2 linked regions of the Homo sapiens genome follow. The protein of the gene in region 1 purifies or fractionates together with the protein of each later gene. This does not show direct contact. Each region holds a gene or a part of one and is shown on either strand. Other genes may lie near its edges.

Region 1 (6,856 bases):
AAAATAATATTCCACTGTGCATATGTACCACAATTTATTCAGTTATCTCACTACTAGTGGGCACTTGCTTTGCTCCCAGTTCTTTTTGCCCCATCCTGTTCATATACACTTATATACATTTATATAGGATAGAATCCTAGGAGCAGGATTTTTGTCTCAAATAGTAGCTTTTTATTTTAACAGATTTTTTTTCTGGACAGCTTTCAAAAAAGGCTGTAGCAATTCACATATCCATCAGCAAAGGATAAGATCGCCCTTTCCCCCACAATCTTAAATAGTCTCAAGGAGCCAGCAAGAATCAGGGGTTCTCCAAGGAGAGGGGAAAGTCTATGAGATTCCTTACTCAGCAATAAATGAGCTAACAGTGAATTATTCCTCAATAGAAAGGCCCCTTTCTATTCATCTTTGGATCTTTTTAGCCAAATAGGCCTCACACAGAACCAAAGCCCAGAACAACCCAAAACAGGGTCTGAAGTCCAGAACAACCCAAAACAAAGTCCAGAACAAGCCAAACAGGATCTGAAGACAGTTGTCTCTAACTCACTCCTCCCCACTTCATGAATCCCCGTGAGTTCTTTCCCACTGGATAGTACTTGCATATTACACAATCAGCTGCATCTAGCATCTGCTCTTAATTTCATTTGATATTTTATCATCTCAGTTAAGATTCTGGGAAAAAGAAGTTGCCTTCTTTTTGAAAGGGATTGAAAGAAACTAGGAAACTTGGCAGGAAGATCATTCTTAAGCCAGGAAAAAAATTTTTAATGCTCACATGTGAACATGTGATGGTCATACCAGAAGGAGCACCCACCTCCCTCCCTCTGTGACAGACACATTTTCTTAGCCTTCACCTTTCCTTCTTTCAAGTTGCTGAAAATCCACAGTGTTTCTGTTCATTTGTTACTTTCATTCTCACCTATCTTCTCTCTTGCTCCATCTACCAGAACAATAATTCCCCATATAATACTTCTCACTTCACTTTTCAACGCAGGACCTCTTGTTGGGTAAGCTAAAAGGATATGTGCTCTGTAAATAAGAAAAATCTTTATTCAAAGAATCTATCAAATGTTCCCATGACTCCATCTCTATTTGTATATCTAAAGATTGCATAGTAGAGAAAAACAAAAGATTAGCCCTGCTTCATCTTACAGCTGGGAGAGTCATGAAAGGCCAAATGGGTAACAAAGCTCCTGGTTTTGACCAAGCCTAGCCAAAGAAGCTACTCAAATGTCAAAGGCATTGTTTGTATAAAAAGGGAACCAAAGTACAGGTTCCCTTTACAGTAGAAATAAGAGAACTCCCTGTTGACAAAGGGAGGAGGAAGAAAATATAAAGTACACTTTTAAAACATGAAGTCTTCATAGCAGCTTATAGTCGTTCAGAGAAACATGTTCCACTGAGAATGACTTGAGAGAGAGGATTACATCATTATGCCAGAAGGAAGAAGCCACTGTGCATGCTCTATCACCAGCCTCACCCTCCTGGTCAGCCTTACAAGAGTGACACTGGATATACTCCAGAAGTTGGACCCACCACAGCCTGCACACTGGAGTAAGTGCTTTCCTCCAGTTGAAGCTCATCTTAGAATGATCTGTGACTTAGACCATCCCCAGAATGGTGTAGTTGCAGGAAGCCTAACGTATGTCTCCTGAGACAGCCTCAGATCTGAGTTTCCTCCTTATGTTTTGGTATTTGGAAAGGGGTGGAGAAGATACTCTTGGGTAGAAGTATGGGAGGCATACAGATTCAGAAGAAAAAGGATAACTCTATCTTTAGTGTGTTGTCTGTGGTGGCATCTAGCCTTACCACTGTATACTTACATTCCACCTACAAACATTAAAATAAAATGCACAGTGCACTCCTTTGTTTTAAAAAGGAACTAGGAAAAAACTCAAATGGCAATTTGGTTCCAGATTTTTTTTTTAATGTGATCTTTGATCTGAAGTCAATGTAGGATGAGTTCTGAACAAAGTAGCACTTTCAAAGGTTGTATATTAAAGAGGTGAAATGAAAGACAACTTGGCACTTGAGATATGAATTTGAATGTGTATATGGTTACAGTCTGGATAAGACACTGCTAACATGACTTCATTAACTGATCGCCTATGTGGGACCATTGGACAAGGAGAGGGGGTGTTCTGGCTGTGGTGCCATATACTGAAACTGAACCCATGAGTTGGGCCCACAGGAATTGAGGGACAAGCCAGATAGATGGCAAGAATTCTAATTTCCAATATGCAAATCAGTCTAAACATTTGACTTTTTTTAAGTCTATTTGGAAAGTTTTTGAAACACGGCTGCACTAGGCGAGTTCATTAAGTAGCAAAATTTTAACTATTGTTATAACTTTTTCTTTGCCCTTTTCAGTTAACACTGCATGACCACCCAGGTGCATGAGGCTCTCTTCTCCTCTTAGTGACAATAACAGGCTCACAGGAAGGGTTCAGTATTAATTATTTATACCTTACTTCATGTGGCTCTAAGTCAATGTATTGTCTATGAGGTTTTATATTTAAGCCATACTTATGAAATGCTAAAGAGGAAAAAGCATATTTAGCACATTTGGGGCACCCTAAATGTGAACCTGAGTAAATTTCAGTTTGTTTGTTTGTTTGTTTTTGTTTGTTTTGAGACGGAGTCTCACGCTGTTACCCAGGCTGGAGGGCAATGGCGCGATCTTGGCTCACACGCAACTTGGCCTCCCAGATTCAAGAGATTCTGTCTTAGCTTACCAAGTTGCTGGGATTACAGGTGCCCACCACCATGCCTGGCTAATTTTTTGTATTTTTAGTAGAGATGGGGTTTCACGATGTTGGCCAGGCTAGTCTCAAACTTCTGACCTCAAGTGATCCGCCCGCTTTGGCCTCCCAAAGTGGGTTTGTTGTTCTTTTAAAGAAAAAAGACCACTACTTATTTTAAAGGGTGATAGCAGTGTCCTGACTCTACCTAGACAGATATGTTCATTCATGTGCTCATTCCAGTTGAACCATAATAACTGCAATTTTCAAAGGAGGAATACAGAGTCTGGGAAATCAGAAGAGTATAGCAACAAACTGGTATACGAGGAAACTGAAAATGAAAAATCAGCAAAGTGGTATTTGTACCTGCCTGAGTGGCTACAGTGGTGAAGGTGAAGGGTGGCAGGCTAGATTAGCACCATCTCCTCCCCTCCTCGCCTGCGGCCTCAGTACTTTCCACTGTGGTCCCAGGATACGCCAGGTCAACTGTGATCAACTCTGACACAGACAAACTCTGGGAGGGGAGGAGGCATCCTTTCCTATTCTCAGCGGTCTCAGTTCCAGAGACCACTTTAGTAAGCTCTCCTTGTCATACCTTAAAACATAAATTAAGACCCATAAGTAATTCCAAAACCTCATTTTATTATGTTGTTTTTATCTCCTTGCTCGCCCATCTTAAAAAAAATGGTAACACCAATCTCAGAGACTGATTTCTCCTACTTATTCTCTTAGGAGGGAAGGAGTGTTAAATAAGCCAAGGCATGCTAACAGGAAGGAAAAAATGGAGATTATGAAGAATAATCACAATTTGAAAACTATTAAAACCACGCACCAGGCAGTTTACAAAATATTTATTTCTTTGTTATATTATTTCTGCTGCTGAATTTGGTCAAGAGATTGTACTAATCATAAAATGAATGTTATTGATCATTTTAAAGTCTCTTCTAAAAGTAGCTAAATTTATACTGCTGATTCCTTTTGAAACATGCGACCTACAGCTTCTTGGCTTTTATGAGCTATTCAAGAGATATTTAGTCATCACGTTGTGTCACAATGGGAGTGACTCACAGAGCAAGGAGAGAACCTGAGGATTCCTCACACATGTAGTACTCAGAGCTCTACGGAAACCCAGGCACCTCGACCTCAAGAGGATCAGCCTGGCCAGGGTGGCACAACTCTTCCTTCCCCGTGCACAGCAGGAAAGCTGCCATCAGCTGAGCAAGTCCACCAACAGTTTCTGTGTCCCACTTCATCTTTAATAAGGTAACTGATGACAGTTTTGTCATTTATTCTTTTATTTATCAAGTCAATCTAAACTTTCTTTGATTTTCCTCACTCTTGCAGAATGAATCGGTGGTCTTTCAAGCTGTGGTCAATGTTGCTACTTCTTTTAATGTAACACATTAGAACCCAGTGATGGGAGCTGGGTCCATCTCACCATAGAAATGACCTCGGTGTGACCTGGGATCTTGCCTTGAACTCCTCCAGGACTCTCTTTGAATGTCCTTTAGCACCCTAGTGTCCCAATTCAATTCATATTTTATTTTCTCTGTGCCTTCTTGACACTATCTGTGAATCTTATGATTAATTGGAAACTGGAGGGGGAAGTCTCCAAAAAGCACAGGATTCTTAGATGAGTTTCTTACTGAAGCAGCAGATTCTCTGTCAACTGCAGGTCTGATCTGTTTGTCTGTCCGCTTTATCAATATTATCAGATGTAAGTTTACATGAATACACACACATATTCACTAAACTGAGGGGAAAAAATGCCTTGTAGGTCATAAAAAAGCAGGGAAATTCCCAACAATTCATATTTGATCCCTGGATCCAGGGGTGGCAGCAATAAGCCTGCTTTAGATATTTACTCCCCATTTTATGATCCGGTGGTTTGGTTTTTCAAATGATGATATGGCTCCTTTCGCAATGACTTGATGTTTAGGAGGTGTGCTTCAATAAATACATTTTAAAATCAACAATCAAGTTAGAGTTGTACAAATGGCTCTGAAATGTCCCACTACACTGTTAGACCAAGGGCACAGATTGTGCTTCTGTACTATTTATCCTAGTATCCCTCGGCATATATTAACTGCTCTAAAAATCTCCTTGGCTACACGCTGCATCAAATCAAAGTTAAATGTTATACCACCTTTCTATTCTATTTTTAATATTCAAAGAGGGTGCTCAGATTTTAGAACAAATTTCAATGTTTAAGTACACACAAAAAAATCATTAACTCATATATTTCAAGAGTAGGAAATGGGAACTGGTGTTAAAACTCTTATAACAAATGTCACTGTCTTAAGGGACAGTGTTTAAAAACGCATACCTGGCCGGGCGCGGTGGCTCATGCCTGTAATCCCAGCACTTTGGGAGGCCGAGGCCGGCGGATCACAAGGTCAGGAGATCGAGACCATCCTGGCTAACACGGTGAAACCTGGTCTCTACTAAAAATACAAAAAATTAGCTAGGCGTGGCAGCGTGCGCCTGTAGTCCCAGCTACTTGGGAGGCTGAGGCAGGAGAATGGTGTGAACCCGGGAGGTGGAGCTTGCAGTGAGCTGAGATCACGCCACTGCACTCCAGCCTGGGCGACAGAGCGAGACTCCGTCTCAAAAAAAAAAAACAACAACAACAAAAAACTCAGACCTTTTCTTCTGCTCAAAGATCACTGTGGCTGAAATATACTGAAGTTTTAAACACACTTTTGGAACCTATACATATGTTCTATGTTCTAAGCTTTCCTTAAAGCCTTGTGACTACAAATGATAACTGTACACAACATATAATCTTTCCCAGATAGCAATTGTTATGCAGTGACCATAAATAAAGTAATCATAGCTTTAACAATAATTTGTAACCTGCTAATACTGTCAGGAAACATTGTCAAAATAATAAACCTAGGAGGGACTTGGGATAATTAATGAATAGTTAGGGATGTGATGGTGAATTATAATTTAAACGTTTTGAAGGAAGGCAAAAGAAAATCAGAGATGCTTTTATCCTTAGAACTAAAAATGCAAAATGTAAATCCAGCAGATCTTCCCTATTTGAGGCAGTTGGTACACCTCTGCTAGGAGGGAGGGAAGCTACATCCTGAGGAGGCTGTCTGAGTGAATCTGTAGTGGAAGTACACACGAACTCCATGCCTCGCTGTCCCAGTACCCAAAGCACAGTCTGGCTGCCAAGGATTACCTCCTGCCCTCAGGGAAGCAGGAATCAAGGGCAAATGTAACTAACCAGAGGAGGAGCTTCTTCATCCATTGAGTAAGGGAACTTACCCTCCCACGACGATAAATACCAACTCAACTATATCATCAGCAGCATAATAATTATTATAATTGTTATTTCAGTCAGACTCTCAAAAAAGCATTCGTTGCTTAATGCAAGCACATTTAATGTAGGGTCCCTTGGTGCCATTAAAAAATTTTTTTTTCAGATTTCTGGGTGGACCATTTGAACACATTTCTCACAGAAACATAATTTTTTAGTTTATGTCAATAGGTTCCAGTGTTCATTTTTTTTTAAGTGTGGAAGAAATCTCTAAAAGCCACCTGGGTTTTTTTTTTTTTTTTAAACAAAACAAAACAAAAACCAGTTTTTTTTTACTTCAATGAAAAGGAAAAAATGAAAAAGGAATGTTGTGTTAAGTCAACCGGGTTTACAATATTCAAATATACAAGAGGCATACATGTTCAGTGGCTTTCAGTATTCAGAAAGCCATGCAAGAGAACTCCAAAAAGAGAATACTTTAGAAAATCATTGCTCAATGTTTTCTATTTGATGTATTTTGGTAAACAACATAGTTGTTGATTCAACTTGGGCCACAATTGCAACACATTGGAAGTAAATAAAGATTCTACAAACTCCTGACAGTGTGGTTGACTAGCTTTGGTATCGCTTTCTAAAAGGAAACACTTCATGAAGTTATGTGGAAATAAAATCAACTGGTCTGGGAGGAACTATCTAGAAAGAACTCTACATTGCTTATAAAAAGTATACCTCACAATAATATTGAGATATTTTCTGTTCTTTTTTTTAAACTGTGTCATTTATTTTTAAGAAACAGAGGAAGGTGAATAAGAGAAGTGAAATTAAATAATCCTATTTTAACTTTTTTACT
Region 2 (7,329 bases), on another chromosome or scaffold:
CTCCACCCCCTGCCCTCTCACAGCTCCCTCAGCCCCCATCAGCTTCTAATCCCACGGTCACACCCCCAGCGGCAAGGCAGCCGTGGGGGAATCCGGGGAGCCTGCGACTCCAGGCTGACCCCGGCTCCTCGGGGGGCCGGACGAGGGACCTACAGCAGGGCTGCGGCCCCACCACTTACTCACTATGTGATTCGGAGCCTCAGTTTGCTAATCTGTACAATGGACAACTCTCCCCACCTCCTGGGGCTGTGGGAAAAGTGACTAGTGACAGGCAGTCCCACGCAGGGCCTTGAAACAGGACCTGGCCCTGGTCCCTCCGGGGGTTTCACCAGGGTTCCCAACAGCAGACCACGGGGGCCAGAAATAGCAAAGGACAAAGGCCAGTCCCCCGTGCCACACCCCCAACTCCCAACCCCAGGCCCCACCTCCCCTCCATCCCCCCGCCCCCATAACCACGGGGCAGATGCCCACTCCCCAGCAGGGCACAGCCCAGGTTGGGGCAGCACAGAGACAGCTAAGAGGGAGCCCTCAGTCAGGATGGGTGAGGGGTCCACCCCCCACTACAGCCAGCAACTCCTCACCAGGGGAGGCAGGAAGGGGCGCCTGCCACAGCCCAGGCCCACCCACTGCCCATTCTCCCAGGAAGGGGGCTCCTGGCCCTTGCCTCCCAGGGGTGACCCTACACAGGAGGCACGGCCAGCCCAGATTCAGGATGAGGCAATGAAGGCTCAGAGACACCAAGCAGTTGCCGAAAAGCACCAGTATTGGAAGGGCAGGGGCAGGACGCACGCCAGGACCAGCTCACGCCACAGCCCCTCGCCAAGAGCCGGGAGTGGAGGCGGCGGGGGATGGAGGCAGGCCGGTTTCCACATCGTGAATTATTCAGTGGCTAATTCTGCTCTGTGGAGATGAGGCAGGAGAGAGAGTGAGTCAGAGCCCTCCCACAGCAGAGCAGAGCGCAGGGCAGGGGAGGAAAGGGGGCAGAAGCCAGGGCCTCCCAGGGCCATAGCACCCTGCTGGAGGCCAGGCAGGTCAGGCTGAGCAGAGGGGCCTGGCTACTGCCCGGAGGCTCTTGTGGGCTGCAGACATCATCGCCCCTCACTCCCTCTCACTGCCTGTCTCGAATGTGGGAATGCAGGCACCCCGGAGGGCTGGAAGGAAGTCCAACTGTGGCTGGCAGCTCGGGCAGGTGGCAGCCCAAGGGGCAGCAGGAAACAGCCGCCCCCCACGCCCCAGGGCTGCCCCGGAGCTTAAGAACTGACAAATGGGCCAAACCCTCAGGGCAGAGAACTTTCCAAAGTGAAGCACACCCTCCTTGCAGCTTCAACAGAGTCCTCCAGGGACAAGTGGCAAAGCCATCAGCATGGAATAAGTTCCAGAAGTTCCTGAATGTGCATTGCCCCCACACTGAACGGTCCCCCAGGGCTGGGCTTCTAGAACGCAGGCGTGAGATTTTATACCAATCCTTCCGCCTCCCTCCTCCCTGCTGTGTCTGGGCGTGCCTGGGCCGATCCCTCGCCCCCTTCCTCATCTGTTAGGAAACGTCATCGGCTCGGCTGGGGGGCCTGGGTGCAAGTGAGCGCGAGGCTGGGAGCAGTGGGCTCCCAGGTGCCCTGCTCCTCCACTTCCGCCTCCCTCCTCTGGATGCGGGAGGCCACAGACAACGCAGTTCTGAAGAGTCCAGGTGCTAGGCTGCCCGCGGAATACCGGATTCCCAAGCCATTTTGATAAGCAAAGCCATCCCCACCCCACCATGGGGCTCTGCCATGATCCGTCCAGAGAGAAACTCCGGGTGACCAGGGACCCTGGTCACGGGGCTTCTGGAATCCGGATCTCTAGGCAGGAAGGAAATGCCCACAGCTTGGTCCCCTGCCCCGCACTCAAATGACAGTAGCTTGGCGATGGGGGTGGTGCTGGGGCCTGGCATGATGCCAGGCTAAGGGCTCCCCTGGGAGAGGGCTGCAAAGGGCCCCCAGCCGCCCCCCAGGTCTGCCTGGGCTCAGCCGCTTCCAGCCTCCCTGCCTGAGGCCCACGGTGCTTCCTGGCCGCCGGGCCTCCCTCCCCCGGGGGCTACAGGCAGCCTGGTCTCCCACGGCCACACACGGCACCCTGTGTACATCCCACAGCCTGACCGCCAAGCAGGGGGTCATTACCGGCCACAGAGGGCTGGCGGCGGCCCAGGCCATTCACCCACTGGAAGCCTGGCAGTGGGATTCCCCAGTCGGGGGTGAGTGGGCGAGGAGTCTCTGCCTGCCTGCACCCAATGTGCTCAGGCACCCGCTCTGATCTCAGAGCCTGGGGGTCATCTGGGGAGGGGTCTCTGCTGGGACACAGCACCAGGCCGCCAACAGTGATGGTGGAGAGGCCCTCCACTGGCCAAGGGGGCTCACGGAGTGGGGAGAGGCAGCTCCATGAAACCCAGGGGCCTTAGTGACACCAGAAGGGAAGGCCAGAATCGGGAGGGGGGCCGTGGACCCTCACTGGGGGTTGGAGGGTATTTAGACCTTTGAGGAGGAGGCCATGACCCTGGAAGAAAGGGTCCTAGGACTCAGAAGGGACCCTCGAGAAGGAAGGAGGCCGGTACCTGCGAGGAGGAGGTGGCCGTGACCCTGGAGGGGGGGATGAGGGGTCTTTAGGCCCTCGGGGATGGGGGCCGTGACCCTGGGAGAGGAGGGGGCCGTGACCTGGGGTCCCTGACCCCGCGACCCCGAGAGGCCCATGTCACCTGCTGGTAGTCGGTGTCCTCGGGCCGGAACTGGCTGCTAGTGGCCTCCCAGCTCAGGTCGAAGTGGGGCAGCCGGTGCAGGAGGCTCACCCACCAGGGCGCCGCGTAGCTGACCCCGGCCATGGCGGGGCCCGGCCGCCTCCGGATGCGCGCGGCCTGCGCGGGGCTCCCTTGCTGGCCCGGGGCGCGGGCTTCAGGGACCCGTCGACCCCCGCCTGGCCGCCCGCATCATCCGCGCGCTCCTGGGCCCGGCCCGGCCCGGCTCGGCCCGGCTCGGCTGCGCTCGGCTCCGCTCGGCCGCCCGCGCCCGCCGCCTCTTTGTTCGCCGCCGCCGCCGCCGCCCCCTCCGCACCCCCGCCCGTCCGCCCGCCGGCCCCGCCCCCGAGCCTCCATTGGCCCGCCTCCCGCCAGCCCAGCCCCCGCGCGCCCCGCCCTCTGTCCCGCCTCTTACCCACCATTGGTCTATCCCCCGCCGATCCCGCCCCACAGCGTGCCCCGCCCACTCGCTCCTGAACCTCTATTGGTCCTTTTACCTGATGGTTTTGCCCCTCCACTCGCATCCCCGCCCATTACCCAATGGCCCCGCCCCTCCACGTGTCCCCGCCCTTCGGCCCCGCCTCTGTACCGTCATTAGTCCGCCGGCAGAAGCTCCGCCTACTTCCTCGCCTTCTTGGAGGGACGCCTGGCCCCTAAGGCGCTGGAAGACCGACCCTCAGCGCTGTAAGACCCGGGCCAGCCAGTCTTTCCACGTGGCCGTGGGGGCTGGAACCCTGGCTGCATATGCAGCTGCGCTTCATTCCATGAATTCGCTCTTCGTTTGGATCTTTGCATGTTTCTTATTTGACTCGAGGGTCCGGCCTGGTGGGCTGGGCTGGTCTTGGCCTCCCCATTGCACACACAACAGCCCACAGCCCGCAGCGCCCAGCAAGGCACCGAGTGGCCTATCTGTACAATGGACATGATCTGGATTCAGGGCCTGGCTGGGGCACCTAGAGCTGTGTGATCTGGGGCAAGTTACTTAACCACTCTGTGCATCGGTGTCCTTGTCTGTAAAAGGGGATGATAAAGCTACGAGTGTTGGCAGGGCGTGGTGGTGGTTCATGCCTGTAATCCCAGCACTTTGGGAGGCCGAGGCAGGCGGATCACCTGAGGTCAGGAGTTCGAGACCAGCCTGGCCAAAATGGTGAAACCCCGTCTCTACTAAAAATACAAAAATTAGCCAGGCGTGGTGGCGGGCGCCTGTAATCCCAGTTACTCTGGAAGCTGAGGGAGGAGAATTGCTTGGACCTGCGAGATGGAGGTTGCGGTGAGTGGAGATTGCGCCACTGCACTCCAACCTGGGCAACAGAGTGAGACTCCATCTCAAAAATAAAAAAAATTTTTTTTAAAAAGGTACGAGTGTTAAGTGGATCCGCAGGTAGATTCAGTCCCCATCCGGCCTTCCCTCTGGGGAAGGTTGAGTCTTTTGTCAAGACCTAAGATGAAGACGGTGCCCTGTTCTGGTGTCCTGGGGCCTAAAAATTCAGGCACCTGCCAGAGAGGGCCCATCATGGGCTTTGGAGCCACACAGCCAAATTTCCTAACAGGGCCTCCCCATGCCTGTGCCTCCTCCTTTGCTAAAGGGGAGATGGGAGCTGCCAGAGCCAGGAGGATGGACATAGTGCGTGCTTGGGCCCAGGTGCACGCCTCCCTCCGCACTCTAGGGCAGTGGGTGCATCCTGGCTCTGCTTCATCACCTGGGGCCTTATTCCTGGACCTCCTGTGTACTGAGAAACAGGTTTCCACACCCGGGCTCCACCATCTGCTGTGCCCGACTTGGCCAGCTCTGTGGGCAGGCAGGCCGTTCCTGGCAGGAAGAGCTCTTTGCAGGCAGGGACGGTTCCGGGCAGTGTCTTCCCAGGAGGCCTGGACTTTGGCTCATTGACTGCCCTGACTCGCCTGTTTTCCTGTGATAGGGCACCGGGCAAGAGGGACTAGCTGAGCTGCGGTTTCCACCCGCTGGATAACTTGGAGACACCACCCAGCTGGGAAATAACAGCCAGGCAGAAGGGGGGAGGTCGCATTCTCCATCCCTAAAGGCCGAAGAGCCAGAAATTTGGGGTGGGGTGGGGATACTGGCTCAGGTTCCTCTCTCTCCAATGCCAAGGATGGTGGGAGCTCCAGGCAGAATGAAGCCCCCCCCAACCCCCTAAGACCAAGGCTACCTACTTGGAGTGGGCTGGTACCTGGCCAGGTGAGTCCTCTTCTTTGGCGCCAGCTGATTGCTCACTGTGAACAGGTGGCTTAGGCAGGACGCCCACTCCTAGCCTGACACTGCTCCAGCATCCAGCCTGTGACCTCATCTCCACAGCCAGGGGATCGCCTGCACGGCCCGTGCCCTGGGCTGACTCTGACCTCAGAGTTCTGTGTCGCATAACTCCAGGGATGAACAGGGCAGTCCCTGGCCAGCTGCAGAAATTGTCCTCATGGCCTGAGATCGTTTCTGGTTCCTGCTGTTAGCAGCAGCTCCCATGGCCACAAACAGACCTCCTGCTTCCCCCCACCACAACTCCAGTGCCCTCCACACCAGCCTGGCAGCCCTGCCAGGGTACACACATGCAGGCAGGGGGTACAGGAGTTCCTTCCCCTGTTTCCAGAAGCCTGGCAAAATTGTACCTTTCCTTTTGATAAAGCCAGAAAGTCTGATGCAGACATGATGTGAGATGATAACTTAGGGTCAGGCACAGTGGCTCACGCCTGTAATCCCCACACTTTGGGAGACCGAGGCAGGGGAGATCGCCTGAGGTCAGGAGTTCGAGACCAGCCTGGGCAAATGGTGAAACCCCGTCTCTACAAAAAAATACAAAAATTAGCCAGGCATGGTGGCACATGCCTGTAATCCCAGCTACTCGGGAGGCTGAGGCAGGAGAATCGCTTGAACCCGGGAGGTGGAGGGTGCAGTGAGCCGAGATTGCGCCATTGCACTCCAGCCTGGGTGACAGAGCGAACTCCATCTCAAAAAAAAAAAAAAAAAGAAAGAAAGAAATGATAACTCAGGTGTAGTGGATTGAATTATGTTCCCCAAAAAGATATGTTCAAGTCCTAACTCCTGGCACCTGTGAACGTCACCTTCTTTGAAGAAAGGGGCCGGGAGCAGTGGCTCATACCTGAAATCCGAGCACTTTGGGAGGCCAAGGCAGGAGGACCGCTTGAGGCCATGAGTTTGAGACCAGCCTGGACAACATAGTGAGACCCTTCTCTACAAAAAAATTTAATCAGCTGGGTGTGGTGGCTTGTGCCACCACAGTAGTTCCAGCTACTTGGGAGGCTAAGGCGGGAGGATCACTTGATCCTAGGAGATCTAGGCTGCAGTGAGCTATGATCGTGCCACCGCACTCCAGCCTGGGTGACAGGCTCATGCCTGTAATCCCAACACTTTAGGAGGCTGAGGCGGGCGGATCACCTGAGGTTGGGAGTTCCAGACCACTTTGACCAACATGGAGAAACCCTGTCTCTACTAAGATTACAAAATTAGCTGGGCGTGGTGCCATGCACCTGTAATCCTAGCTACTCAGGAGGCTGAGGCAGGAGAACAGCTTAAACCCGGGGGGACGGAGGTTGCAGTGAGCCGAGATCACGCCATTGCACCCCAGCCTGGGCAACAAGAGTGAAACTCCATTTCAAAAAAATAATAAATAAATGAGAGTCTTTGCAAATGTAATCCAGTGAAGATGAGGTCATACTGGGTTAAAGTGTTCTCTAATGCAAAGATGGTGTCCTTATAAGAAAAGATAAATTTGGACACAGACTCAGAGATACAGAGACACAGAGGGAAGCACCCGTGTGAACACGGAGGCAGAATCTCAGGGATGCCGCCACAGCCCTGAACGCCGAGGGGCCACCAGAAGCTGGCAGAGAAGCCTGGGGCGCTCCCTCCCTCAGAGCGCCCCGCCTCAATCTCAGCCTTCTGGCCTCCAGAACCGTGAGACAATGCATGTCTGTGTTTGAAGCCACTCAGTTTGTGGAGCTTTGTCACGGCAAATCCAGAAACAAACACACCGGCTTTCTCAGAGCTTCCTGGTGGCCAGCGCCCTGTGCCTCTGATGGTATGGGATGAAAAGGTACTGATGACTGAGTAATATTTGCAGTGTGTTTGGGCCATGAAATCTATTCCTAAGGGGCCTGTGGAGGAAGAATTTGGTAAAAGGGATCCAGGGTGGAGAGAATAAGGGGCCCACAGTGAAGGTTCTGGAAGAACACAGCCAGAGTCCCTACCTCACCCCCGTGCAATGCTGCTTGGGATCCGGGTGTTGAAGAGAAACTCCGTGGGTCCCTCCCTCCAGCTGCCAGGAAGGGTAAAGGAGAGAAGGCCAGAGAGAGGATCTAGTGTGGGCCAGGGCATGGAGGAAGCTCCGCCCACCATCCCACCTGCTTTGACCCGACAGTCACTGCCCAGAGCTGTGTGGTTCTTCCCATCTGTCCTGCAACCACTGTGGCTGGAGGCTGGACTTTAGTCCCACTCTACAGACGGAGCAACTGAGGCCCGGTCCCCGCCATTGCATGGGAGGCCTTGAGAATCACAAGCTGGTCAGGGAACCAGGGTTCAGCCTAGTTCCAGGGGCCCT

Evidence for each region.
Region 2: the proteins of DHRS9 (region 1) and TTYH3 purify together in Homo sapiens (affinity purification with mass spectrometry; 3 studies listed by BioGRID and IntAct, with this or other methods). This does not show direct contact.

Annotation. Positions count from the first base shown.
Region 1 is NC_000002.12:169,065,717-169,072,572, forward strand, and holds the start of DHRS9 (dehydrogenase/reductase SDR family member 9), read left to right. Parts: upstream 1-3,846; 5' UTR 3,847-4,001; intron 4,002-6,856. UniProt on the Homo sapiens protein: 3-alpha-hydroxysteroid dehydrogenase that converts 3-alpha-tetrahydroprogesterone (allopregnanolone) to dihydroxyprogesterone and 3-alpha-androstanediol to dihydroxyprogesterone. Also plays a role in the biosynthesis of retinoic acid from retinaldehyde.
Region 2 is NC_000007.14:2,627,675-2,635,003, reverse strand, and holds the start of TTYH3 (protein tweety homolog 3), read right to left. Parts: upstream 3,019-7,329; 5' UTR 2,849-3,018; coding exon 2,726-2,848; intron 1-2,725. UniProt on the Homo sapiens protein: Calcium-independent, swelling-dependent volume-regulated anion channel (VRAC-swell) which plays a pivotal role in the process of regulatory volume decrease (RVD) in the brain through the efflux of anions like chloride and organic osmolytes like glutamate.